7 linked regions of the Homo sapiens genome follow. The protein of the gene in region 3 purifies or fractionates together with the protein of the main gene of each other region. This does not show direct contact. Each region holds a gene or a part of one and is shown on either strand. Other genes may lie near its edges.

Region 1 (4,173 bases), on a different chromosome or scaffold from region 3:
CCCTCCAACCTGGGTGACAGAGCTGTCTCTGTCTCAAAAACAAACAAGCAAACAAAATACACACACACCTTACATGAAAATGGTAATCATCGTAATTGCCCTTAATTGCCTGTAATTGCTGTCATCTAGTTTAATCCTCCAATGATCTGGTGAGGCTGAAGTTAATCATCATGTTACAGATGAAGAGTTAGAGCTCTGAGTCAGGGATATAGGTGGTCCCTGAGCCCCCTCCTTACCTCTCAGCCATGCACCACCACCAAGACCTGAGATATGCGGCCCAAGGTCCCAGTGCATGTTGTAATTACCGCCGTGCACATTTATTAAAGAACAAGTCAGGAGTGGTTTGCTGCCTTCCCACCCTCACGCTTAAGGATGGGAAAAGTATATTAGAATTTCAGTTGGGGGCCAGGCACGGTGGCTCATGCCTGTAATCCCAGCAATTTGGGAGGCTGAAGCAAGAGGATCACTTGAGCCACGGAGTTCGAGACCAGCCTGGGCAACACAGCAAGGCCCCGTCTCTAATTTTTTAAAAATAAAAAATTAGCCAGGCATGGTGGTATACACCTATGGTCCCAACTACTTGGGAGGCTGAGGTGGGAGGATCACTTGAGCCTGGGAAGCTGAGGCTGCAGTGAGCAGTGATTGCACCATATCACTCCAGCCTGGGCAACAGAGCAAGACCGTGTCTCAAAAAAAAAAAAAAAAAAAAAAAAAAACCTCAGTTGGAGGGAAAACAGCAAACCACCCGCTTGCCTCCAAGGGTGGACATGGAAGGTTTGTCAGGTGAAGAAATCCCAGCAGGCTCTTCCCTGTGGATTTTGAAAGTCAGAGGCCGTGCTGCTGTGTCATGGCAAGACCAGGGGGTGCTTTCCCCCTCAGCAGGCAGGGGCGTCCGCACCTTCACAGGTGACTCCATCCACATCGCTGAGCTGGTAGCCTCGCCGGCAGTAACACTGGTAGGAGCCGTAGACGTTGGCACACTCCTGGCTACAGGGGCTGCTGCTGCACTCATTGATGTCTGAAATACAAAACGAGGGTCACCGCTCAGAGCATCATACGTCCCTGCCTCCACAGTAGCCCTCAGGGTCAGTGAACAGAAAATCTCCTCTCCACCTCCCTCAGGTTAACACACTCGGAGAGACAGAGGTCCCGGGGGGTGTGGCCGAGGGAGAGGCGTCATCGCTGGTGGCTCCGGACCCTCCATCCCTGCTCCTGCCTGCTTCGACCACAACTTCTCCTGCCAGGATGGCAGCGATCGCCTCCAGCCTTGGCCCCTGGAAGTCTGCCCCGACCTGGCTGCCAGAGTCCATTCTAGTTCTCAAATGGAAATCTGATCCTGTGCTCTCCACTTCACCTCCAAGATGGCATCCTAAACAGATGACGGCACACAAGGAAGTCCTCGGCCACCCAGCCCATACGCCAGTACTCCTCATACTCCAATGCACAGAACTCACTGGGCCACTCAGCAACTCTGAACTACTGCTCAACTGTCCCCTTTACCTAAAGCAGAGGTCAGCAAATCATAGTCTATGGGCCAAATTTGTCCCAACACTTGTTTTTATAAATAAAGTTTTATTAGAACACAGCCCGGCAAGGCATGGTGGCTCATGCCTGTAATTCCAGCACTTCGGGAGGCCGAGGTGGGCGGATCACGAGGTCAGGGGTTCGAGACCAGCCTGGCCAGCATGATGAAACCCATCTCTACTAAAAATACAAGAATTAGCCAGGCATGGTGGCACGCACCTGTAGTCACAACTTCTCGGGAGGCTGAAGCAGGAGAATTGCTTGAACAAGGAGGCAGAGGTTGCAGTGAGCCAAGATCACACCACTGCACTCCAGCCTGGGCGACAGAGCGAGACTCCGTCTCAAAATAATAATAACAATAAAATAAAGAATACAGCCACATTCACTCTTTTTTTTTTTGAGACAAAGTCTTTGTCTGTCGCCCAGGCTGGAGTACAAGTAGCTCAATCTCAGCTCACTGCAATCTCCACCTCCGGGAGGCTATTGTCCACTAAATGTGGACATGAATTCAAGCAGTTCTCCTGCCTCAGCCTCCTGAGTAGCTGGGGGATTACAGGTGTGCACCACCATGCCCGGCTAATTTTTGTATTTTTAGTAGACACAGGGTTTCACGATGTTGGCCATACTGGTCTCGAACTCCTGACCTCAAGTAATCCACCTGCCTCAGCCTCCCAAAGTGCTGGGATTACAGGTGTGAGCCACTGTGCCCTGCCACACTCATTCTTTTACCATGGTCCTCTGGCCACTTCTCTGCTACCACAGCAGAGTTCAGCGGTTGCAACAGAGATTGTGGCTGGAAAAGCCTTAAATCTATACTATGTGGCTGTCACAGAACGTCCAATAGCCTTCCACCCCGTGTTTCATCTCTGTGGCCCCCACACACCAGGCCTGGCCTCCACCTGTCCAGTGTGGTCTCTCATCCCCCGCTAGAGACACTCCCCAGTGCAGGACCGAGTTCTTGCTACACACCCGGGGCAGGACCCTAACAAATGGTTAGTAAGGTCACATAGCAAGGTTGGCCAGGCTCTGGTTCTATATCCACAATATTGTCCACTAATGTGGATATGAATGCCGACTTTTCAGCAATTTATGAATGACTAGAGGAAGCACAAGCCAGGAATCCCACTACTTCTACTAAATAATAATAAAGCCAGCAGCCTCCACACCGCCAGCTCTTCATCCTGTGCTTGGCCCTGTGATAAGCTCTTCACATGCTTAATCTCGTTTCATCCTCACAACCCCCTATGGGGTTGGTCCTACTATGCCCGTTTTACAGATGAGGACACCATGGCCCAGGAAAGACTGAGTTACTTCTTCAAGGCCATGGAAATGGCAGAAGTCAGGTTTGAACACAAGCCTGAGAGACTCAACTCGTGAATCTTGTTCCTTGTCCATACACGTTCTTGTGAACTAAGCCCAGGACCCCTCACACCGTCCGTCCTCCGATTTGAGAATCATGCACACCACAGCTCACTGTGGCATATCCAACCCCTGCGACCATCTCATCAGGAAGGAAAATTCTCATGGCAAAATGTTAGGACCTGCCATGTTTGAGTCAGGCTGCAGAAGCCGTCCTGTGAGCCAGTGCACGGCACCAAACAGGGTGTCATCGGCAATGTGGACGATTGTGGAGGGCCATCCAAAGCTCTCAGTGTCTGCTCAGCTCAGAACCTAATCCGTATACAAGACACGACATCTGCCAAGCACCTAGTATGTGCCAGGCCCTGGGCTGACATGCAGTTCATGTGACCTTCCCATCAGCCCAGGAGGTTGGTGTTATCTGAGAACCACAAGACTGTTGGCAGGAACAACTCTGTCCAACCCCCACATACCAAGAGACCTGACCCAACTTCAGCGTGGCTGCCATTGGCCCAAGACCAGGTATCCAGGATGTAGACCCAGCCCCCTTGACATGCCTGTCTGAGAAAGATCAATGCTGCCAAAAGAATTTTCTCTTGGTTCCAGCCCAAACCTGACTACAGGCGCTGACCTCCATGTTCCTTAGAAGCATCTACTTTAGAAAAACTTGCAAATGTAAACGGTTTCTCTGTCCCTTTGAGATGTGCAACCAAGGAGTGTCTTTCTCAAGGGCTGGGGACATGCCTGGGGAATGTCGTCATCCGGAAGGCCAGGGTGCTTCTCCCTGTCTCTGCGGGTGGGGAAAGCCTAACTCCAACACGAAGTTAGAGGCAGGCCGGGCGCGGTGGCTCACGCCTGTAATGCCAGCACTTTGGGAGGCCGAGGTGGGCGGATCATCTGAGGTCAGGAGTTCAAGACCAGCCTGGCCAACATGGGGAAACCCTGTCTCTACTAAAAATACAAAAATTAGCTGGGCATGGTGGTGTGCACCTGTAATCCCAGCTATTCGGGAGGCTGAGGCAGGGGAATCGCTTGAACCCGGGAGGCGGAGGTTGCAGTGAGCCGAGATCGTAGCATTGCACTCCAGCCTGGGTGACAGAGCGAGACTCCGTCTCAAAAAAAAAAAAAGAAGTTAGAGGCAGGTGCACAGTGACCCACGCCCTAAAGGCCTCAGTACTTCCTCTCACAGCTCGTCATTTACAAAGCCTCCCTCCTTTTGTTTGGGTGACTTGAGATCAATGGACACAGAGGCCTGTCTCCCCTAGGCAGCATCTGATTAAAACCCACACA
Region 2 (4,173 bases), on a different chromosome or scaffold from region 3:
CTCTGATTATATCCAACAGATACACATTCTTGTCATAAAATATACATTCTCTAGTAAGTTATTTTCATCCACAGCATATATAAATATGCAAACACAGGTGGTAAAAATCACTTTACTACCAAAGTACAAAACAGCAACTGCTGAAAAACAAAAATTAAGATGTTGCACGTGTTAAGAAAAGAGTGACTCAGTGTTCCACTGCAAAGTGAAACCAAATGATTTATTTGTGCTAAATGAATGGAAATAATGTATTCAGAATATACTTCTTTGTACACTGCACTTGCTTATACTGGGTGAAATGAACAGCCATCAATGCTAATGTGCTACTTTCCTTTAGACCTTATTTTCTTTTCTGCCAAGCAATACAATATTTTCTGGCCATTATGCCAAGATAATGCGATAATGTCCATTTCAAATAGTATTTTCTAATGGTATTTTGCACCTTTAAAATATTTGTTCAAACTCTATTTTAAGAGAACACAAATGAAGTACGAAAGGGGGAAGCCGCATTGTTTTTGTTACAATCACACTGCCTTCTGCAGCAGAAATCAAATAACACATTCTAATTAGCCATTGAAACCACCGGTGAGTAGGACAACATTTATCGACTCATGTTAGAGGGGGCCAGGTTAAGTAGATTAACATTAAGGATAAAAAAGAGAATCACATCTTAATATACGATAATTATCCATCCCATTTATGTGGAGAAGGTACAGCCACATGATTCATTACTTTGGGCCATCTGTTTTACGAGAGACATGGATGTCAATAACACAATGAAAATAACCTGTAAAAAATGTATCTGTAGAAAGTTCTGTTAAACAGAAAATATGTCTTGGGCACTGATTCATCTAACTTTCTGTTCTACACTGAAAGCCAGATTTTCAAAGGTCTGAATTGTAGTGCTGAATTATTGGTATGTTTGGTAAACACTATTATAATGAGAGGAGGGTAACAACAGCTCAGTAATTTTCTGCAGATTCATGGAAAAAAATATAAAAAAGATATCCCTTTTTCTTTTACAAACCTAAAAGCCAGGAGAATGAAGCTCTGGGCCAAGCAAAAATTGCACACTGCTGCTGAAATACCAAATACCAAACAGCGAAGGTTCCAGCCAGGGAATGGACGTACATGAAGATTCAAGTAAAACACTGATGGAAAAAGTCGTCTGGTTAGTGTTGTAGACCCACAACACTGGCTGCATTTCTGACAAACATTTACAACACAATGGATAGTGAAGCCTAGATAACCTCAGTGCAAATAAGTCATATCCAAATATGCCAGAGAAGGAAGCCTTTGGCGTTGAGTAGACGGCTCCATTGGATGAGTCCCAACTTGAAATTCAGACTAAGCTCATGCATTAAGGCTGGGAGGAGGGGTGCGCCGAATGTTGCGAAGGAGTAGGCTGCGAGGTGGCTGCTGAGGGGACCGTGGGCTGCATGGGTGGCGGAGGTGGAGGCGGAGGTGGCTGGACTGGGGTCTGTGTGTTGGGAGATGGAGGCGGCGTGGGCCGTTTGAATTTGTCAGGACTGTTGCTTCTCCGTGGTGAAGGCCTCTGCAGAGGGGACAGGAACAGCAAGTCAGTCTAGGTACAGGTGGATCTCATTCTACCTAACACAGCCTGACTTGGCACTGGGGCTAATCAAACACTAACCAACAAAGACAAGAAACCAGGGATTTCTTTCTTCATCCCTACTGGTTTCTGAACTAGTAATAAAATTTAAATAAGGCAGTGTTTACACTTCCACCTATGAAAAAGCTACATAAAATTACTGCACAACTTGTGTTGAACAAACTGCTGGACTTGGGTCCTTCAACGAGAGCTGTAAAATATCCCCTTAAATCTTTCTTTCCGTGTGTGTCACCAATTCCCTCTATTGCTTATCTCCAATAAGTTGTCCACATCCTGAAAGATACAGCTCAACAGAAATGTTTCTATGTTTGAGGCCGGGTGCAGTGGCTCACACCTGTAATCCTAGCACTTTAGGAGGTAGAGGTGGGTGGATAACCTGAGGCCAGGAGTTCGAGACCAGCCTGGCCAACAGGGCAAAACCCCGTCTCTATTAAAAATACAAAAAGCAGCCAGGTGTGGTGCCGTGTGCCTGTAATACCAGCTACTCGGGAGGCTGAGGCAAGAGAATCCCTTGAGCTCCGGAGGCGGATGTTGCAGTGAGCAGACATCATGCTGCTGAACTCCAGCCTGGATGACAGAGTGAGGAAAAAAAAAAAAAAAGTTCCTACTTTTACATAAAGTCCATCAAACTGGCCAAACAGCTTCAGAAATACCTTAAGTGCATTCTTAGAATAGGGTTCTTCTTTAAAATATTATAATTTATTCTTTGAAATATTGGTATTTCTGTTATTGGAAATACCCTTAATAATACTCTCACTCTACTAGCTACATTTCTAATGGCTCTATTAGTCAACTATATTGCCGACTCTAAAGAAAAAACTCCCTTGGGTAGAGTTGGAACCAGATGCACTTAAGCTTCCTTGTAATTCGAGGAGAGAAAATTCTGAGTAACATTACAAACAAGGCTAACTTCAGGAAGAATACTGAAGGTCAGTGAACTGTGAAGGTGCAGACAATAAATATCTTTAGACATTATGGCAACCAACAATAATGCAAGGAGCTGGCCAGAGTTCAATCAAAGCACTGGCCAGAGTTCAAATTATATTTCACAAAGGGTAATTTTTCATAGGAAGTGAAGTTAAAGTTTTGTCTCCTGGGAAGGATTTTAGTTTCAATACCAGAATTTGGTATCAAACTGTTTAAGTCTCTACAGTTTCAAGGTGAACGGATGGAGGAGGCAGGAAGAAGGGCAAATGTCTAAGGGCACCGATCCTGTTCTCCAGAACACCAGTCGGTACCACTTTCAGGAGTAAAGTGCTGCTTCCTACCCCACGGACACTTACTGTGATACCATGGGATGTTCCCATGTGCTGCACGTGAAGACCCGGGGAATTGTAATAAGACATTCCAGCTCTAGTCAGTGAAGTTGGTGGCGTGAAACCAACCGTGTGACTTGCATATGATAGACCTAAAATATAACAACAAATTAAGTATCATTTTAAGCTCAACTATCTGGTGTCTTCAACTATCTAGGAGGTTTTAAATCGCAGTAGTTCTCTATCACCCACAAAAATACAAACAGATGAAAAGAATGATGGGCTCACTAAATGGTGTGGATAACAAGGGAAATAAATGTTAATTCCTAGGATAGAACAGAGAGCCCAGAAATAAACTCACACGTATATGGTCAACTGATCTTCAAAAAGGGCACCAAGAATACACAACGGGGAAAGAGAACAGTCTCTTCAACAGATGGTGTTGGGAAAACTGGATATTCACATGCAGAGGAGTGACACTGGACCTTATCTCTTACACTATATACAAAAGTCAACTCAAAATGGATTAAAGACTTAACTATAAGACCTTAAACTATAAAACTCTTAGAAGGAAAATAGGGGAAAAGCTCCCTGACATTGATCTTAGCAATGATTTCTTGGATATGACATAGGCAACAAAAAAAAAAAGCAAAAACAAATACGTGGGACTACATTCAACTAAAAAGTGTCTGCGCTAAGGAAACTTTCAGTCAACAGACTGAAAAGGCAACCTATAGAATGGGAGGAGATATTTGCAAACCATATACCTGGTATGGGGTGAATATGCGAAATACATAAGTAACTCCTATGACTCAAAGCAAACAAACACACTCAAATAGTCCAATGAAAAAATGCACAGAGAACTTGAATACACATTTCTCTAAAAAAGATACACAAATGTGCTAATAGATATATGAAAAGACGATTATCACCACTAACCATCAGGGAAATGCAAATCAAAACCACAGTGAGATATCACCTCATAACTGTTAAGTTGGCCATTATTATTTTTTTTCTTATTCATTTTTATTATTATTATTATTATACTTTAAGTTTTAGGGTACATGTGCACAATGTGCAGGTTAGTTACATATGTATACATGTGCCATGCTGGTGTGCTGCACCCATTAACTCGTTATTTAGCATTAGGTATATCTCCTAATGTTATGCCTCTCCCCTCCCCCCACCCCACAACAGTCCCTAGAGTGTGATGTTATTCCCCTTCCTGTGTCCATGTGTTCTCATTGTTCAATTCCCACCTATGAGTCAGAACATGTGGTGTTT
Region 3 (4,173 bases):
AGATGTCAGCTGTCTATACACCACCGTCAGCTCCCACAGACCAGATGCCAAGAAACCCCAATGCACAGCAGCGCCCCCAGATGTCAGCTGTCTATACACCACCGTCAGCTCCCACAGACCAGATGCCAAGAAACCCCAATCCACAGCAGCGCCCCCAGATGTCAGCTGTCTATACGCCACCGTCAGCTCCCACAGACCAGATGCCAAGAAACCCCAATCCACAGCAGCGCCCCCAGATGTCAGCTGTCTATACGCCACCGTCAGCTCCCACAGACCAGATGCCAAGAAACCCCAATCCACAGCAGCGCCCCCAGATGTCAGCTGTCTATGCGCCACCGTCAGCTCCCACAGACCAGATGCCAAGAAACCCCAATCCACAGCAGCGCCCCCAGATGTCAGCTGTCTATGCGCCACCGTCAGCTCCCACAGACCAGATGCCAAGAAACCCCAATCCACAGCAGCGCCTCCAGATGTCAGCTGTCTATGCGCCACCGTCAGCTCCCACAGACCAGATGCCAAGAAACCCCAATCCACAGCAGCGCCCCCAGATGTCAGCTGTCTATGCGTCACCGTCAGCTCCCACAGACCAGATGCCAAGAAACCCCAATCCACAGCAGCGCCCCCAGATGTCAGCTGTCTATGCGCCACCGTCAGCTCCCACAGACCAGATGCCAAGAAACCCCAATCCACAGCAGCGCCCCCAGATGTCAGCTGTCTATGTGCCACCGTCAGCTCCCACAGACCAGATGCCAAGAAACCCCAATCCACAGCAGCGCCCCCAGATGTCAGCTGTCTATACGCCACCGTCAGCTCCCACAGACCAGATGCCAAGAAACCCCAATCCACAGCAGCGCCCCCAGATGTCAGCTGTCTATGCGCCACCGTCAGCTCCCACAGACCAGATGCCAAGAAACCCCAATCCACAGCAGCGCCCCCAGATGTCAGCTGTCTATGCGTCACCGTCAGCTCCCACAGACCAGATGCCAAGAAACCCCAATCCACAGCAGCGCCCCCAGATGTCAGCTGTCTATACACCACCGTCAGCTACAATGGCTATCGCCCAGGCTCTTATTACTCTTCTTTACTTTTACCTAAAACTAAAATAACACTGACTTAAGACCATGTTGTATCATTGCTGGAAATGGAAAGCCAGTATCATGTGCCAGAGAGAGAGGTCATGGGAAATTCCATCACTCACGGCAGTGTTATTCCCGTCTGTGTGGACACTGATAGGAGAAGGCTCTGAACCTGAGATCTGCCCTTATTAAAAAGAGAGAGTAACAGATACAAGAGAGATGCTAAAGACATCCCAGAGCCACAGTGAGAGGTTCGCCTCGGAGCAAGCAGAGAACGCAGGAGAGTCCCGACGGCCTGGAGCCTGGTGATTTCCCGACTTTTAGATTCACTGAACCAACAGAACTCTCACTGCATCCCCGAATGGAAGATTTTTTTTTATTTTGCAAGATATATACATTAAAAGCAACAATAACCACCACCTACTTTTACCATCTTTTCCTAAAAGAACATTTTAATGCCAACAAAACAGATGGCATGAGCTCAGAGTGGTAACAGTGGCTGAAATCTACCTAGACAGCACCCATGTGCCAGGTCCTGTTCTGAGGAGTCATGGAAACTGGAAAGGGCGAAACCCCGAGGCTCACAGATTCCACGTTGGTTCTGTTCCACCCCCACTTCACCTTGCATTCACCTCGCCTCTGTGGCAGACAGAATAATGGCCCCAAAGATGTACACGGTCTGATCCCCAGAACCTGTCATCTGCTGTCTCAGGGCAACAAGGACTCTGTGGATGGGAGGGAGTTAAGCACTGACATGGGGAAACTCTCCTGAACTATCCTGACGGGCCGAATGTCATCACAGGTGACCTAAGACGTGACCACAGTACACCATGGAATACTATGCACCAATGAAAAAGAATGAGTTCATGTCCTTTGCAGGGACATGGATGAACTGGACGCCATCATCCTTGGCAAACTAACACAGGAACAGAAAACCAAACACCATGTGTTCTCACTCAGAAGTGGGAGTTGAACAATGAGAACACATGGACACAGGGAGGAGAACATCACACACCAGGGCCTGTCGGGGGGTGGGGGAAGGGGAGGGAGAGCATTAGGACAAACACCTAAGGCATGTGGGGCTTAAAACCTAGATGACAGGTTGGTATGTGCAGCAAACCTTCATGGCACATGTAACAAACCTGCACGTTCAGCACATGTATCCCAGAACTTAAAGTAAAATAAATAAATAAATAAATAAGTGACCACAGGACCTAAGTGGGTCAAGGTCAGAGGAGTGATGGGGGATGGAAGCAGAGGTCAAGGTCAGAGGAGTGATGGGGGATGGAAGCAGAGGTCAAGGTCAGAGGAGTGATGGGGGATGGAAGCAGAGGTCAAGGTCAGAGGAGTGATGGGGGATGGAAGCAGAGGTCAAGGTCGGAGGAGTGATGGGGATGAAAGCAGAGGTCAAGGTCGGAGGAGTGATGGGGGATGGAAGCAGAGGTCAAGGTCAGAGGAGTGATGGGGGATGGAAGCAGAGGTCAAGGTCGGAGGAGTGATGGGGATGAAAGCAGAGGTCAAGGTCGGAGGAGTGATGGGGATGGAAGCAGAGGTCAAGGTCAGAGGAGTGATGGGGGATGGAAGCAGAGGTCAAGGTCGGAGGAGTGATGGGGATGGAAGCAGAGGTCAAGGTCGGAGGAGTGATGGGGGATGGAAGCAGAGGTCGGAGTGCAGCACTCTGAGGACGGAGGAAGGGCCATGAGCCGAGGAATGCGGGCAGCCTCTAGGAGCTGGAAAAGGCCGGAAACGGATTCTCTCCTAGAGCCTTGAGAAGGGACGTGGCTCTGCAGATGACACCTTGATTTTGGAGACTTGAGAAGGGACGTGGCCCTGCAGACACCTCGATTTTGGGCCATGAGACCAAACCATTTTGGACTTCTGACCTCCAGAACTGTAACAGACTTGTGTGATTTCTAAGCCGCTGCGTTTGTGATTTGTAAGCCGCTGCGTTTGTGATTTGTTACAACCCACTTTTGGGAACAATGACCCGGAAGGAGGGCGAGGATAGAGAAGCCAGAGCCAGCACAGAGGTGCCAGGAGGCAGGAGCAGAGGAGGGGCGAGCTGTATCCCAGACAATAAGAGGGGGGAGTGTCTGGGGGCTGGTCGGGCCGCATGAGAAGGGAGACGGATGAGGCCACTGGCAGCCTTGACGGGAGCTGCTCCCTCTGGAAGGAAGGAAGGCCGCCCGGCTGCCATGGACTGAAGGCTTTGCTCGCTTTGCCTCACCGAGATGCCCCCTCTCTGCTGCTACATCTCAGCACCCAGCAGGCACTCGGTACGCACTTATGAGGAACACGCGACTGCTCTGACTCTTCACCCTCCTGCCACTGGGGACTCAGGCCTGGCCGCAAACACCCCCTCACTCAGGGCCCCTGTGCCGCTCGAGGTGGCTCAGGGCCTTTGCACTGGCTGCTCTCGTGGCCTGGACCACTCTTCTCAGAGGTCTCTGCGTGGCTGCCCACCGCTCATCACCCAGGCCCCACACAGCAGCCACCAGCCATGGGAGAGTGCCACTACTGAAAGGATGGTATTTTGAACACATTGGGGTCCATGAAGTAAATTTGCCTTTTTTTAACGTGCTGACTAGAACACTTAAGATGGCATGTGCAGCTCACATAACACATCCCCCGACAGGACTCTAAGCCAGGCTGGCAACTTCCCTGACGGGGCCAGGCAGTCAACACTTCCAGCTCCTCGGGCCCTCTGTGGTCATCACGGTGGCAAGTGTCAGCCCCAGGTGACATGAGTGGGTGGGTGTGGCTGTGCACCAAGACTTCACCCAGAACGTGAGTCGGCCCTTGCCTGCTGTGTGGTCAAGAAACCAAACCTGCCCAGAGAGGCCTGGCTTTGCCCTCTGCCCCTGGGAAGTCATCTCTGAGCCCTTGGAGCCTCACGCATGATAAGGAGGGTCTGCCTGCCCCGGGGGACTCAGGCCAGCCCAAAAGCAAGATGAATTTGGGGTAGAGTTTGGACCAGGGGGTATCCTTGACTTTCAGGGGGCGGGAGGCTGAGGTCAGCCACACAGAACGGGGAGGAGTCCCCAGTAAGAACCCAGGACACCACGGTCTGAGGAGAATTCCTGGCCGGCAAGACCCC
Region 4 (4,173 bases), on a different chromosome or scaffold from region 3:
GTGGTGTGCTGAGAAGAGTGGATTATAACTGCTATTGGAACTGTCTGGGCTTAGTAAGTCTAAAAGTCCAGATCCTGCTCATGTGCAAATGCACTCCTTCAATTCCCTAAAGGGTAATCTCCTTGGAAAACAGACAGGGCACTCATGTCTCCAAACCCAATGTGTGTTTTTGAAAAAGGATATCACAAAAGAATTATAAAAATTCAGGGAACAGATTGTTTTTCAGCTTCTCAAGCTTCTAGAAAGCATAAAGTTGTAATGGAAAACGGAAATCAAGCCACCCTCTACTTTTTCCAAAAGCAATATTAGATATGCCTAGTAGTCTATAAATAGCTCATCTGAAGCAGTTGTACCCAAACTTTTATGGTTTGATTTTATGACAACATCTATTTCCTCCCATCCCTGCCTAAAAGAGTTAAAGGATGCATTATAATTTTGAAATTAATTAAAATTAGTTGTTTAAGCTGGGTATGGTGGCACGTGGCTATATTCCCAGCTACTCGGGAGGCTGAGATGAGAGGATCCACTTAAGCCCAGGAGTTCGAGGCTGCAGTGAACTACGATGGTGCCACTGCACTCCAGCCTGGGCGACACAACAAGACACTGTCTCTAAAATAAATAAATAAATATTTTTAAAAAATTAGCTGTTTAAATTTTGTAATATCTTTTAGCTTAATTATAAATACACTAAGGCAGAGGATCTAAAATTCTAGTAGGCCTAAGAATCCCTTGAGGCAAAGTGTCAGCCTCGCAAAACATACAGAATTTTGTTCCTACCTTTTGACAGTTTGCTTGAAAGAGTCTGGCCTGCAACCTAAAATACTATTCTAAAAACCATGACTAGAAATCCATAATAAGAGCAACAACAAAACTAAATTGCTTATTAAGGCTAAAGTTCTTGTCTATAATAGTTGAGTAAATCAGTGTTTCACATCCATACTTTTAAATGTGTACTTCAACTTCTATCCTCATGATGAATTCCTACTCATTGAATAGTTTGTTAAAAATGCACACCCAACAATTAACCTTTTGAATAAAAAAATACAATCACAAATCTTAATATTAGATTTGACAAATACTGTTTAGCATCCAGTAAGGATATAATCTATCAGTTAAAACTATTTGATATAATCTATCAGTTAAAACTATTAGATTGAGGAAAAGAAGTATTATGTTTCTTTTTTTTCTTTGAGATGGAGTCTCGCTCTGTCCCCCAGGCTGGAGTGCAATGGCGTCATCTTGGCTCACTGTAACCTCGGCCTCCCAGATTCAAGTGATTCTTCTGCCTCAGCCTCCCAAGTAGGTGGGATTACAGGCGTGTGCTACCACACCCAGCTAATTTTTGTATTTTTTAGTAGAGATGGGGTTTCACTATGTTGGCCAGTCTGGTCTTGAACTCTTGACCTCAAGTGATCCACCCGTCTCAGCCTCCCAGAGTGCTGGGATTATAGGCGTGAGCCACTGTGCCTGGCCTGAAAGTATGTCTCTTTAAACAATTATTATTATTATTCTTATTTTTAATAGCGATGAGGTCTCACTGTATCGCCCAGGCTGGTTTCAAACACCTGGGCTCAAGCGATCCTCTAGCCTCAGTCTCCCAAAGTGCTGGGATTATAGGCATGAGCCACCATGCCCGCTGGAAAATGTGTTAATTGACTGCCTGAGACACCTAACCATAACAGATACTTATGTTTTGCTCCTTGTCTTTAGGAAAATTGAAGCTTGGCTATACCTGGCAGGTTCAGTTCTTCTAATTCAATCACCAAGCGTCTGCTGCTATAATAGTCCTTCATCAGCTTCTGTAGGTCTTCAGGTAACCCTGGTTTTGGTTCTGATTTTGCAAGAACATCAGTAATTTTCTTCTAAGATATGAGAAAGAAGAAAAATGGGACGACATATTTTAAAATGGCATTTGGTTGGAATAGGTTAGTTCCTCTGGCATTTAAACGGCACATAGCTTTTGGTGTTAGCCAAGTGTGAATGTGGGTTTTAATAAATACATTTGAGAAAATTCACTAAATACTTCTTGGACATAACTATTGCTTTGAAAAATGAAAAAATGATCTAGAAAGCTCCCTGTAACTCTTGGTCTATGACTTCCAAGATAACTAAATTTTTGCAGGCATCTCCATACTGGGGTATTATTTTCTGTTAAAAGTAAAGAAATCTCATTGCTATGGAGAGCTCTCTTTTAGCCCTAGATGATTTATATTCCTGTAGGATTAGAATTTTGAGAATTTCTTGCCCAATCTGGTTTTTGAGGTGCTGAGTCTTAGTTTGGATTTCTGTCATTAGTGTAAAACCCGCAGTAGGAATCTGAGCATAGGGGCCTACTGAGAAGGGGACTTAACACCCTCGATTCTCAGGTCTTGGATAACTGATGGTATTAAAGTGGCCCTATGCAAAGTAGAAAAAATATTACAGGAAATACTTTCCAACATCGATTTTGATTTGGACTCATTTGTGTAGCATGTATTGAATGCTGCAGTAGTAGAAACCCACAATCATTCATTTATTTCCATCATAAGCTTCCCTTCTCACTTCCTTCTAATGTTCCACCAAAGATCCAGAAGGAGCATTCCCCACCCCTGACCCCAGATTTTCCCCCTCCTTCTACAATATCCTCATTTCTAGACACTTGCCAAGAATGGTCAAGCCTCTGTCAAAGAAATTAACTTTTAAAAATATGTCATCAGTGGGCACATTTTAGTGTGACCTCAGTCAAGACTAAACTATCTAGCTAGAGTTTTGACCTTGAGCCACCAAGAACTTAACACTCCAGAAGGCCATTAGTGTACAAATTATCAAAGCGAAGTTAAAGTCACTTATTTAAGGACTTGCCAAACCTCAGCCAATTTGGCATCTCCCATTTTCCTATTTGGCCATTTGTAAGAAAAGAAAACATATGCACACACACTCTCAGTTTTCTAAAAGCTTGCTGTTAAGTAATAGGTTTGAGTCCATCTTCTTTCCTCTAATCCCAATCGTATTTCCTCGGCTGACTTCAGCAGCAGACCCCTCTTGGCAGGGAGAGAATTACACTGCTGTTTTCACAACTGTGGGAGAAGGTCATAGCTAACCATACTTTCTCCAAGGCTGAGCCATAAAAAAGTTTGTATATGAGAAAGAGTCTTTCCTGTGCTCACCAGCAAATATCAAAATGCAAGGTAGGGGAGCTTTTTTGACCTAATTTATGGTTCCAAATTAGTCAGAAGTGCCTCATACTACCTTCATCTGCTTATTATTTTCTTTTTATTCATACTTTAAGGTATAAGGTCTTAAAATCCGGAATGAATAGAAAAAGGAGGTTGGTATATTTCTTTTCATGGACAGAGCCAGAAGGGCCGGGGGAGGATAGCTCTGGACTCCTTCTAGAATTAGAAATCTATGTCTGACATCTGACCACACTGAAAACATAGGGTGGGTAACAAAGATATTTGGCACTCCACAGGACTGAAATAGGAGTCAGAAGAATTTATTCTTAGCTCCAACAGAAACACTTATTAGTAGTGACCTTAGGAAAGTCACCAAACCTCAAAGAATCTTACAATGTCTGCATCTCTTAGGTGGGGATTACAATAGTTGCCTCAAGAAAGTATGATATATAAAAATGTGATGGAAACCATGTGGGGCCATACAAATTTAAGAAATTATTAATATTACCTTTCTTCTTTTCCTGGTCTTGGTGGTATTCTCTTTTCTTTCCTTTGGTTGTATCAAAAAACATTCTTTAGGCTATTAAGAAATACAAATGAGAACATTTTAATCTTTTCATGATAAAGTGTCAATTAGTGGCATGAACCCCAAAGTACTTTCTGCCATGCATGTATTCTTCAGAGTATCTTGGTAATATTCTACAGAAAGAGAGATGCTGGAAGATCTACCGTAGGTTACTATGCAGCGGTTGGGCTGAGAGAATTTGAGAAAGTCAGAAAGCGCAGATGACTTAAGACTGGAGAATCTTTGAGCAAGATCAAATTGTGAGTGAGTGTATATGTGTGCTTGGTGTGGAAGTGCAGTGTATTGGAGATTGAAGACAGTGGCTGAGTTTGTATAATACAGCAGAAATCGATGTGATTAAAATTAAGATGTGGTAAGACAGTCTTTGACTAGAGTGACTAAGGTTTTCCATGAACTAGCTGTGTGTGAGCCTACATTTCCAAGTCACTGGTT
Region 5 (4,014 bases), on a different chromosome or scaffold from region 3:
AAGCAGTGTTTCACAACAAGCTCTCCTTTTCTGAGATAGTGCCAATCTGGAGGGGCTTCCTTGGAAACTATCCAATCAAATGACAAGGAAGTAAAACTATGGGTCCCAGTGGAGCTGGCCCCACTTCCTGAGCAGACGTTGGCTGGATTAGAAAGACAGCAGAACAAATGTCTGACAAATACCAAAACTGTGGAGGAAATAATGGAGGCACATCCCTCTTGCAACCAGGAAGTGTTAAAATGGACATAAATATTCAAGGAGAAGAAAGGAGTCCTGGGTAAGAAAGGAGACCCCTGGTAGGCACAGCACAGCTGAGTTCTTGATGTAGCTTGGCAAAGCCATAAATAACACTCCTTCCTTATTAGCCTTTATATAAAGAAGGCAGTGATAGTGATGGTCAAGATTGGGAACCCAATCTTGTGTGAAACACTGGCCATGTTAATTCCAAACGGCCTCACCCGGGGAAGGGCCAAGCTGAGAAAAGCAGGTGCTGAAAATTTATTCCAGAAAACTCCAGGGAATAGGGAGTATGGAATCCCTGGACTAACTCGTGAGCCTGGACAAGAGGAAAAACGGCCACTGCTGAGGATTCAGTCAATGGGGAATGATGCAAATGATGCACTGGGAGCAGTAACCCCATTTCTTTCCTTCCTCAGCCCATCCTCTGTGGCTTTCATGGCCCTCAGGGCAGTAACCACACTCTGGGCCAACACTACAGGCACAGGATTCTTGATTTTAATAAATAAATAACCTAACACACAGGGTGAGCACGGCAGGCAGCTTTGATTGGAGAAGCAGCTTGCTGAATTCTTTCTTGTATAGTAGTGGAGAAAAGGCTTGGAGTTCTATTCCTTAAAAATTCTGGTTTGAGTTACAGGAACTTAATACCTGGAGGGAAAAAGAAAGATGAGACTGTGATGTTATCAGCTAATGGGGATGCTGGGACATGAAGAGCCTGCCTAAAGGTGTAACAGGGAGGCAGAGACTTTTCTGGAGTGTACAGTGACAGGAAATAACTGTGTTTCCTTTTCACATCATTGAAAAAGGCCAATATTTCTCCATAAAGAGATAAAAATCATAGCAACAAGATGAAATGGGGAAAGGAATTGAGGAAGGGGAACTTTATTTAATGAGGCAAATAGCCACTTACCCAAACTCCACCTCTCTATCTCCAAAAGGCAAATTCAGGAAGGGGAATACTATTTAAGGCCTTGAAGAGTCTTTTGAAGGTGGCAGTGAGGGGAAGTGGGTTCATTTTTCTGAGTTCATGTAAGCATATGTGGTTGGGGATGCAAAGACCAATTCCAGTGCAGGAAGCTCATCACTGCCCAGGTGTCCCTGATTTCTGGGGAGCCCAAGGCACCTGTAGTAATTAGGCTTGAAGGGCCCATTCTTGTTGAGTCCCAGATACTTGGCCTGTTCATCTGTCAGCTCTGTCAAGTGGGCATCAAAGGTAGGCAGGTGTAGGCTGGCCACATACTCATCTGGAACAGACCACAGAAGCCCTGGTATAAGCATTCATGCCTTTTATCTGATGGCTATTGTCCCCAAGCTAGGCCTTAAAAAGTTCAAAGACACCTTCTAATTCCTGGAGCTGAATGAAAAATGTTCAACCTTCGCTCACTGGTCCTCAATTCTAAGGAATAGCTGCCTTCAGCTTCAAGCCCAGTGCTTTCCAAAGCCTTAATAATTCATCCTTACTAACTCAGCTTTGAACCCTGCCTTCCAGAAAAGTGCAGGAGAGATGAAAGAAACAACAGGCATTAAGATTTAAAAGAAGGAATAGGATAATGTGGGAACTAAATAATGGGAAGCTCCAACTTGAGTTTTGCCTTGGACTCCATACTTTGGGTCATTTAAAACAACTAATGCCTGGGGAAACTTGAATGGAAAAACTAAGAAGGATACTAAATGGGATAAATGAACTGTTTGCTTTGCTTTTAGTACTCTTAATTCTTATGGGTTTCTGTTCACATTCTATTATCTGACTACATAGTACTTATTCATAATCTTATGTCATTTCCTATGTATTTGTTTGGTCTCCCAACTTCATTATACATTCTGTCAGAATATGGACTGTGCTGTTGCTTTTATATCCTTCTAAAGTGTCTACTAAAGGGAAAATGTATCAACTTTTAACAGTTGTTATATACCTAGTGCTAAGGCAAAACAAAACCAGAAGCTTATTTATTACCTGATCTTTGCCTGAGGAGTTTATAAACACACTGTATCAGTTCAGGTGCTTGAGGCAGGCTCTTTAAAAATTTAAGACAGGTTAATGTTTCTCTTATACAAAACACCCACATAACTAAATAGCTCCTATTCCACATCTCTCCTTTGGCCTGAAGCACTGGGATTGGTGTTGGAAGGTGTAGTAAGAAAGTCTTGTGTCGTCTGAGAAAAGTTTGGTAGGGGCTATTTGGCAGCCTAGAATTGGAGTAAGTCAGATGTCACAAGGTAGGAGATGATTCTTCTCTTTTAAGGGAAGATTTTTTTTTTCTCCTTTGAGATTCCCACATAAAGATACTTTAAGAAAAAAAAAATCCTTAAAATTCACAGGCAGGTAAAATAAATCACAGCATAATATCACAACTTCGCTAGGGCAACACATGTAGAAAATGGGATAAATAAATGGGAATGGCACCTAGGAATCCTAATTCCTACTTTACAAGATGAAGGTACCTTTTTTCCCCCATCCTTAAGTAAGTTAATGCCCCCAAACTTCCTTTAACCTCAGACTCTGAACTACTTTGGTAAGGATGGAGATGGAAGAGTAAATACTTACCCATCTTCTTGGGCAACAGGTAGACATCCTGCTTATAGCGACCCTCAGGAGCATTGTAAAGCTCTATCAAGGCAAGAGCCTAGAAAAGCAGAGAGATGGATGCTGATGTGCCATTCATGGCAATCTACCCAAGCAAGTGAAACCTGGTGGGTCTGAGGACCTTCTCCAGACTACTGCTATCCCACTCTGGAAGCCTTACCTGAGTAGTAGCAGTGATTGAGAGCACAAATGTAGGCACTGTGGAGCAGCTAAGGTTCAGCAGGCGGCCCTAGTGATCAAAGGTGAAGACACAAATGGATTAGGACAAAGTCGCTGGCCTTTGAGAAGTGAGGGAAGAGAAGCATGACCACCATTTTCCAAACACTTCCTGACTAACACTGCTGGAAAAAAAGCAGCTATTCAATATATAAGAACTAACTGACTGACATTTAAATGAAACCACTAAAATTCTGGAAAATCTGATGAAACTAATAGCTAAAAGATTTCTGGAATTATTTAAAAAGGAATACAGATGGTCATATGACACTGAGGCTTATGCCAAATATCAGTGTACTTCTCTTGAATTTTCCACTCTCTATAGCAAAATATCCTCCTTCTGAGGATCGGCATTTCTTTTAAAGACTGTCTTGAAATAAACAATGATCAGTCAAATCCAGGGACAATCTCTCCAGGTTGTGAGGGGAGGTATATTTGGACTTAGGAAGCTGTGATGATTGATTGATTGATTGATTGATTGATTGATTAGATGGAGTCTCCCTCTGTTGCCCAGGCTGGAGTTCCATGGCATGATCTTGACTCACTGTAACCTCTGCCCCCTGGGTTCAAGTGATTCTCCTGCCTCAGCCTCCAGAGTAACTGGGATCACAGGTGTGCGCCACCATGCCCGGCTAACTTTTGTATTTTTTTTTTTTTTTTTGTAGAGACAGGGTTTCACCATAGCTGTGATGATTTTTGTGCTTCTCCTTCAGTTTGCTTCTCCTGAATTCAAAGACAGCATTGTCAGCCTTGTATTTTGAGTTGGTGATTCAGACAGTAGAAGAACTAGAAATTGCCCCCAATGCCACCCTTTCCTATTTTGTTTCCTATGAAGCCTGACCACCTTTTTGCTCAACCATCTAGCCAAAAACACCCATGGTACTTGCTTTTGTCACCAAAATTACCAGGTGGGACCTCCTAGGGCAGCTAGAAACAAGTCATCAGTCAGCAGACTGACATCAAAGCTATTAATG
Region 6 (4,173 bases), about 15 Mb from region 3:
CTGGAGGAGAAGTGTGAGAGCAGTCCTGCCTTAGGGCAGAAGGATGGACCTGATCACTAAAAAACACCTACTGTGTGCCTGGCTGGGGGCTCGCCTGTGTGGGGAGAGGGCAGGGAGAAGGCCTGACAGCCCTTCCTCTTGGAAATGCACAGTCCTGAGAAACAGGGTGGGTCCCCAGTGCTTCCTGGAGTGCTCCAGGGGACCGCCCTAGGCCCATGTGAAATGGGCTGTGATCCCCTGATAAATCCTAGTATCAGGGACAAGGATCCAGTCAAGCCAGTGTCAACAAAGAGGGAAGTTATTGACTCCAATGACCATACATCCAGAGGGTCCTGTTTTGGGGCACAGCTAGATCCAGGGGGTCTTCCAGGCAGGAAGTAGAGGGAAGGCGGAAGGCCAGACATGGCACATCCCAGCTATCCCACACCCCCACCTTTATAGAGCTTTCTGGGTAGTCCCACCTAGTGACATCTGCATACATTTCCTGGGCCACTCCTAGCTGCAGGGGAGACTGAGAAATGTATTAATAATACTTTAGTCCCGGCAGTTGCTGCCTGCGGGAGATTGAGACCTCTGTTAACAGAGGAGGGGAATAGTATACTGGGAAGGCAACCAGGAGCCTCTGCCAGTAGCCCCGAGTCCTGATCCTCAGGGGGCTGGTTGCAGGCTCTTACCCACGCTAACCTGGACAGTCCTGCCAGGCCCTCAGTACTCAGCACCGCCCACTCACTTGGCACTGGAATGTGCATTAACTTTTAATTGGCTCCCCACTTAGAAGAAAGCACACATTCATCAGTTTCCCCCACAGCAACGGGAAAGCCAGGCCTGGGAACACATGGAGGAGGGCACCGCCGAGCCGCGAGGAGCTCTGGCCCCGGGGTGTCCCTCAGGGTGCTGGCCAGGCTGCCTTTGTTCCGCTTTACACATGGCCCTGTGTGATCTCATGTCCATCCGTATGCCAGGGCTGCCCAGAGCCCCAGCCAGACTGCTTGTCAGAGCCCTGCTTGGCTTCTCGCCCTGGATGTCCCACAGCAAACTAATCCTGTCTGAACTTGACCTCGACATCTTCCTCCCAGGCGTGCTCCTTTGCCTCACCTAGTCCGTTTCTCAGTGAAGAGCACCACCATCCACCTGCTTGCCCACACCAGAAACCTCATCTCATCCCTGTCTCCTCCCTCCCCCTTGCTATCCCTTTCTCCCCTCTCATTCCCTCTGTCTGTAGATATTTCTTTTTTTTTTTTTTTTTTACTTTTGAGATGGAGTTTTGCTCTTGTTGCCCAGGCTGGAGTGCAATGGCACGATCTTGGCTCACCGCCTCCCTGGTTCAAGCGATTCTCCTGCCTCAGCCTCCCGAGTAGCTGGGATTACAGGCATGCGCCACCACACCTGGCTAATTTTGTATTTTTAGTAGAGATGGGGTTTCTCCATGTTGGTCAGTCTGGTCTCGAACTCCCTACCTCAGGTGATCTGCCTGCCTTGGCCTCCCAAAATGGTAGGATTATAGGTGTGAGCCACTGCACCCAGCTGTAGCTACTTCTTTTCTTTTATGTTATTTTTATTTATTTATTTAGAGACGGAGTCCACCTCTGTCGCCCAGGCTGGAGTGCAGTGGCGCAATCTCGGCTCACTGCAACCTCCGCCTCCCAGGTTCAAGTGATTCTCCTGCCTTAGCCCCCCAAGTAGCTGGGATTACAGGCGCCCACCACCACACTCGGCTAATTTTTGTATTTTTAGTAGAGATGGGGTTTCACCACATTGGCCAGGCTAGTCTGGAACTCCTGACCTCAAGTGATCCGCCTGCCTTGGCCTCCCAAAGTACCGGGATTACAGGTGTGAGCCACCGTGCCTAGCCTGTCTGTAGATACATCTTTAGGAAGTGCTCAGCTGCTCAGCAGCACACTCTGAGACCCAGCCCCATCCTTTCTCTGCTTCACTGTTGTTGGTGAGTTGACCTTCGTGCTCTGCTTGTGGCCTCGTGTTCACAGCATGGCTGCTGCATGTCCAAGCTTCATGGCTGTCTGCAAGGCAGGAAGAAGTAGGGAGTGGGTAGGGCTGGCACCAGCAGCAGTGGTCTCTTCTATCCAGAAAGCAAAAGCAGACTTCCACCAAAATATCTGGCTAAAACTGTGTCCCATGGCCACCTCTGGCTGCAAGGGAGGCCAGGGACCTGAGTGCGTGTCTTTTTGAGGCTCAGGTTAGGGGATTTGGGAGAAGGGAACTGGGCACTGGTGTGGCCAGCTGACAGGGTCTGCTGCCCCCTAGCACAGCCGACTCAGCTTCCTCAGACACATCCACCTGCTCCTCTCCCGCCTCCCTCTGCTACCAAGCTGGGCCTCTGCCCCCTCTCTCCTGGCTTGCTGCAATCAGCCTTGATGACTCCATCCATTTACCTCACTGCAGCCTGAGAGCAATTCTAAAACACAGGTCTGACCACATTGCTCCCTTGAGAAGACTGTCGGCAGGTTACCACTATTCTCAGAGTAAAATCAATGTATCGTTCCCTTTGTTATCTGGGTGCCATCTCCTCTCCCTCCTCATCTTTCCCCACCCCTACCACTGTATGTCCCAGCCCTTCTGGCCTCATGGTCTATCATTCCCTCTGCCTGGAACCCTCCACCCACCCCATCTTTGCGCACTGGTCCTCACCGATGCCCTTCCGTGGTGGAACAGGTGCTTCCTTTGGGCTTCTATCACAGCAACTCGATCCCTCTGGCAGTTCTAAGCAGTCTGGCAGCGTCTTCTTAAAGGCAGGAACCCCAGCATGGCCTGGCCCAGGACTGGCCTTCAGGAGGACTGTGAATTCATGGAGGTGTTGGAAGCTGGGCAGGATTTGGATGGCTCTCTGTCATTGCCCAGCATAACCAATTGTGGGACCCCGGTCCCCTCTACACCCCCAGGGCCGGATCTCCTTCTACATGACCAACTATGGTGAGGAGGGCACGCACGTGGGGAGTGCCGCCGCCCTGGACAACACGGACCTGGTGTTTGGCCAGTACCGGGAGGCAGGTACGTCTGTCCGTGGTTTGGCCCTGTGGTCCCCATTGAAGTGTACACTTTAGTTTTTCTGAGTGTTCTTCCAGGAGCAGCATAGTGCCAGGAAGGTCTAAGGAGCTGGAAGAAGAGCTTTCCAAGCAAGAAAGAGACAAGCCAGGGTTAGGACTCTGGAGGGGGCAGTCTTCCCACTCTGAAGGCCAGAAAGTGTAGTGGCTCAGGGTCTGTGCTCTTAACCCTTTGTTACCAGTTGTCAGGTTTTGGGCAAGTCACTTCCCTTCTCTGAGCCTCAGTTTTCTAATCTCCAGAAGAGGGATTATGACGGTACCTGCATCCAAGGGTCGCTGGGAGGATGCAGTGAAGTCAACGTTCGCTGTGGGTGTGGCCTGTGCAGGAGACCCTGTCTGCCTGGTGCAGTGATCCCCTGGCCCCTCCTCAGGTGCTGTATCCTTCGGGGAGCAGGAGCAGGTGGAAGAACCTTGACAGACCTGAGTGCGGTGCAAGATTAGAGGGGCCCGGCAAGCCCAGATGAGTGAAAGGAAGGAAGGGTCAAAGACCAGGAATGAAGAAAATCATTGAGCAGGAATGAGTGCCTGGGAGCGAAGGAGTGAGCCCAGGGAGCAGTGAGTGGGGTCTTCCAGGGAGCTTGTTGGTGTGGGGCCCTGCATGGGGACTACCCTCAGAGTGTCAGCGAGCACTGATAGGGCCAGGAAGGCATATCTTAACCCTTTGTCTTAGATGCTTGGGGCAAGTTGCTTAACTGCCCTGTGCCTCTGTTTCCTCATTCGTAAGGGGGATGGTAGCCCTTCCCAAGACAGCTGTTGAGGGCAGTCTTGGGGCAGTTGGCAAAGTGCCCTCAGCACAGAGTAAGCGCTCAGGGCCAGGGGTTGGTGTCATGATCGGGGACTCGCCCTGGGACAGCCCTTCAGCAGGGCCAGACCACGTGGCTGTCCAGAGCCCCCATGGACCAGCATGGCTTGCAGCCTGCTCCTGGACTGTCTACTGCTCACAGCTGGACCAGGCCCTTGGCCCCACATGCTCTAGGAGGGCAAACGCCCTGTGGTGTTTGTCTAAGGTCTAGTGTCATCCGTGCGGAAAAAGATTTCCAGACACCAGGCAGCAAGCTGGGCCCCCGCCAGCTGTGCTGAGCACTGCACCTGTTTTTGCTGAAGGGTTCTCTTG
Region 7 (3,446 bases), on a different chromosome or scaffold from region 3:
TATTAAAAAAAAAAACTATGTCACATCTGGACACATTTCACAGAGCATATGAAAACTGCCCACAAACTAATTAAGCCTCTTTACTCTCACTCCAGAAATTTTTTTTCTAATAATAACATTAATAATAATTAATATAATTCTGGCAGCAGCACAAATCTATGACTTTTTAAGGCTTAAGAGAGTCATTTTTAAATACTTGGGTACAACTGAATAATATGAGTCCTGCCATTTCTTTTATTTACACTCTTGACTCAGCAAGAATTATGACAGAAGTCCACATGGTTATCTGCAGCTTGTTAAGTCTTCTACAATGGCTTTGACTTTATAACCCACTCAGCATTTGGGTTAAGCTGATATAAATCCTTCATGTAAGTGTCATCATCAAGGCAGCGTTCCCCTGTTAAAATAGATGTTGTGTCAGTTTAATACAGCAGGTAGATTGGTATGCAATTTTAAACTTAAGCTTAATTATTTAACTCTTAAGTCTTGGACTTCAAAATACTTATTCTACTTTGGGAGGCCGAGGTGGGCAGATTGGTTGAGATCAGGAGTTTGAGGCCAGCCTGGGCAACATAATGAAACCCCATCTCTACAAAAAATACAAAAATTAGCTAGGCATGGTGGCTTGCACCTGTAGTCCCAGCTACTCAGGGGGCTGAGGTGGGAGGATGGCTTGAGCTCAGGAGGTGGAGGTTGCAGTGAGCTGAGATTGCGCCACTGCACTTCAGCCTGGGTGACAGAGGCAGACACTGTCTCCAAAACAAAACAAATAATAATAATAAAAAAAAAACTTCTCATTCTTTCCTGTTTCTCAAAATATTGTAAGAATTGGCCAACAATTGGAAAAATAAATTTGGTAGTCTTTCTCCAAATGAATAGGTTTCAAATTAATTTAGGAAGCTGAAAATACTTTGTATGATAGGCTTTTAAATAGTTCCTTAAAAGCTTAATCATCTTATTAGGAGGGGCAATGGTTTTGAATCCACCTAAGAAACTACACTTAATTCCCAAGATCTAAAAGGAAAATAAGAAATCAAATCTATTAATATTTAAATAACCTTTACTAATAGAGTTAACAATTCCAGGTTTCTAGTGTCATGGCCTATTTAAGAATAAACCTTCACATTCCTATATTTAACTTTTAATATTTACTAACATTTTTAATTCCCACAAAAACACCCTACAAAATTTATTGCAAAATTATTTTTAATTACTATTTTGAACTTAACATGATTTCATTTATTTCTTAATAATTTTACCCTTACCATTTCCAAGAGTCAAAAAAGAAAAAAAGATTATTTTAAATTTTTAAAAAGAGATGGTTAAGACTCACTGATAATTACAAAAGGGTAAAATATAAAACATGGTCAAAGTTAATTCATTCCATTTTTTAAATTACTAATGTGAATTTGAGTGTGTGTGCATGTGTATAAAATTTAGCAGGAAATCAACTATGGCAAAAGTAAATCTGCTTTTACTAAAAATATCTAATACTGTACTATAATAAAGTGTTATCTTAGCCTTATATAAGCTCAACTACTTCCTTTACTATGTGACATGAGTATATTACAAAGAAGAGAGTTTTGAAAAACTTGCATCATTAACCATTCCAGGAGTTATTCTTACTGTATAGGGAACTTGCCTTTGCTGAAATTGAACATAGATGGGCATTTGTACAGGCGCTCAAACAGAGCCTGAAGAGAAAGGTCAAACCATTAAAGAAATCCACAATATTCAGCAACTTATCTAAAGCATGGTATATTTTACTTCTAATTTCCTGTTCTTCCTCCAAAGACATAAATAATAACCACTGGCAATATCAAAACAGCATATAAAATGTAAAGAGAAAAAAAAGTGCTTACCAATATTTCCTCCAATTTCATACAAAAAAACTTCTCCTTTCTTGAGAGTCTGGGCAACCCCACTATGAGGGACAAAACAAACCGATTAGTTGTATCATCAAACAGCTTGCAAGTAAATCACTTTAACGTGCTTGGGGAATTCTGGCTGGTATGGAAAATTCATAACTTAGACACACTGTAATTATCTACACGTTTGTATTTTCCCATCTGTTAAATGTACCCAATAGGTAATAAAAGTATCACACCTGTAAATTAAAATAAACAAATGGAATTATACATCTGAAGGCAAAGTAGTAAACCAGTATCTAAATTTGTAAAATTCAAAAGAAAAGTTAATGTAACATTTCCGCTGCCAATCAAATTATTAATATGATTATCCACTTTGTATACAAGCCAAAATGGTCCTCATAAAACTATTAAATGTTTCCACTTTAGTTTTCACATTACTCTTATTCAATAAGTATTTATCATGGGTTTGCTGTGCTGACAACTCCAGTAGTGTGCAAGATGCATGTGAAGAATAAGACATGCTTCTGACTGGGTGTGAAGGCTCATGCCTGTAATCCCAGCACTTTGGGAGGCCAAAGCAGGTAGATCGCTTGAGCCCAGTCTGGGCAACATGGCAAAACCCCATTTCTACCCAAAATACAAAAAATTTAGCCGTGCATGGTGGTGAGTGTCTGTGATCCTAGCTACTCGGGAGGCTGAGGTGGGAGGACTGCTTGAGCCCAGGAGATGGATGTTGCAGTGAGCTGAGATTGTGCCACTGCACTCCAGCCTGGGTGACAGAATGAGATCCTGTCTCCAAAAAGAAAAAAAAAAGAATAAGCCATTCTCTTCTGTCAGTTGTGCAAATGAGGGCAGCACAGACCCTCAGAGTGGAAGCAAATTATGTCATTATCTTTCTGTAAAAGAATTACCTGAGAAACCTGCTAAAAATTCAGATGGAGAGCTCTAGAAACTCAGATTTAACTGGTCTAGGATAAAGCCCAAGAAACTGCTTTTCAAATGCTCTATAGTGGATTCTGAAGCATGGCAAGGTTAGTGGACCACTAAGATAAGGCCCTGAAGACACACTCTCTGGAACTGAGAAGAGAAAATCAGGTCTGACTTGTATTCAAGCCATTAGGAAGAGCATGGTACAGCAGCAGCGCTCCTCACCACCCATGGAATGGCTCATCTGGTTCTCCTCCTTTCTCTCCCTGCCCTGTGTCCCTGGCACACTGGACAGTCAGGGCTCTCTGGGCCCTCACGCTATGTTCCACCTGCTGCACTGCATCTGATCCACTTTGTTTCCAACTACAGTGTAGGTTTATCTTTTAAATTAAATAATTTAATCATTATTATTTTTGTTTTTAATCTAGTACATAACACAATCAACTACTATAGGTCTAAAGAGAGTCCCTATTTCTGTGAAAACCAAATTGAATGTTTCAGGAGACTTGATTTAAAGAAAAACATCTAGTTAGATATTGCTGTCAGACTGATTCTCAAGTACCTGTGTTCTACTTTAAAGAAACAGGAACTAGATTTCCTGGTATATTCAGATTTTTGCGTAATGCTAATCAACAAATTCATCGTTAA

Evidence for each region.
Region 1: the proteins of ZNF444 (region 3) and FBLN1 purify together in Homo sapiens (affinity purification with mass spectrometry; one large-scale study listed by BioGRID and IntAct). This does not show direct contact.
Region 2: the proteins of ZNF444 (region 3) and CCDC6 purify together in Homo sapiens (affinity purification with mass spectrometry; 3 studies listed by BioGRID and IntAct, with this or other methods). This does not show direct contact.
Region 4: the proteins of ZNF444 (region 3) and CMSS1 purify together in Homo sapiens (affinity purification with mass spectrometry; one large-scale study listed by BioGRID and IntAct). This does not show direct contact.
Region 5: the proteins of ZNF444 (region 3) and AHCYL2 purify together in Homo sapiens (affinity purification with mass spectrometry; 3 studies listed by BioGRID and IntAct, with this or other methods). This does not show direct contact.
Region 6: the proteins of ZNF444 (region 3) and BCKDHA purify together in Homo sapiens (affinity purification with mass spectrometry; one large-scale study listed by BioGRID and IntAct). This does not show direct contact.
Region 7: the proteins of ZNF444 (region 3) and ARHGAP18 purify together in Homo sapiens (affinity purification with mass spectrometry; one large-scale study listed by BioGRID and IntAct). This does not show direct contact.

What each region holds. Positions count from the first base shown.
Region 1 is NC_000022.11:45,543,930-45,548,102, reverse strand, and holds part of FBLN1 (fibulin-1 isoform D precursor), read right to left. Parts: intron 1,019-4,173; coding exon 899-1,018; intron 1-898. UniProt on the Homo sapiens protein: Incorporated into fibronectin-containing matrix fibers. May play a role in cell adhesion and migration along protein fibers within the extracellular matrix (ECM).
Region 2 is NC_000010.11:59,791,557-59,795,729, forward strand, and holds part of CCDC6 (coiled-coil domain-containing protein 6), read right to left. Parts: intron 3,042-4,173; coding exon 2,917-3,041; intron 1,556-2,916; coding exon 1,361-1,555; 3' UTR 1-1,360.
Region 3 is NC_000019.10:56,147,579-56,151,751, reverse strand, and holds part of ZNF444 (zinc finger protein 444), read right to left. Parts: intron 1-4,173. UniProt on the Homo sapiens protein: Transcriptional regulator. Binds to the 5'-flanking critical region of the SCARF1 promoter.
Region 4 is NC_000003.12:100,159,992-100,164,164, reverse strand, and holds part of CMSS1 (protein CMSS1), read right to left. Parts: intron 3,981-4,173; exon of another isoform or gene 3,736-3,980; coding exon 3,664-3,735; exon of another isoform or gene 3,461-3,663; intron 1,863-3,460; coding exon 1,733-1,862; intron 1-1,732.
Region 5 is NC_000007.14:129,423,913-129,427,926, reverse strand, and holds part of AHCYL2 (adenosylhomocysteinase 3), read right to left. Parts: intron 3,054-4,014; coding exon 2,985-3,053; intron 2,865-2,984; coding exon 2,786-2,864; intron 1,485-2,785; coding exon 1,364-1,484; intron 889-1,363; coding exon 882-888; 3' UTR 1-881. UniProt on the Homo sapiens protein: May regulate the electrogenic sodium/bicarbonate cotransporter SLC4A4 activity and Mg(2+)-sensitivity. On the contrary of its homolog AHCYL1, does not regulate ITPR1 sensitivity to inositol 1,4,5-trisphosphate.
Region 6 is NC_000019.10:41,411,152-41,415,324, forward strand, and holds part of BCKDHA (2-oxoisovalerate dehydrogenase subunit alpha, mitochondrial isoform 1 precursor), read left to right. Parts: intron 1-2,897; coding exon 2,898-3,006; intron 3,007-4,173. UniProt on the Homo sapiens protein: Together with BCKDHB forms the heterotetrameric E1 subunit of the mitochondrial branched-chain alpha-ketoacid dehydrogenase (BCKD) complex.
Region 7 is NC_000006.12:129,578,208-129,581,653, forward strand, and holds part of ARHGAP18 (rho GTPase-activating protein 18), read right to left. Parts: intron 1,925-3,446; coding exon 1,863-1,924; intron 398-1,862; coding exon 306-397; 3' UTR 1-305. UniProt on the Homo sapiens protein: Rho GTPase activating protein that suppresses F-actin polymerization by inhibiting Rho. Rho GTPase activating proteins act by converting Rho-type GTPases to an inactive GDP-bound state.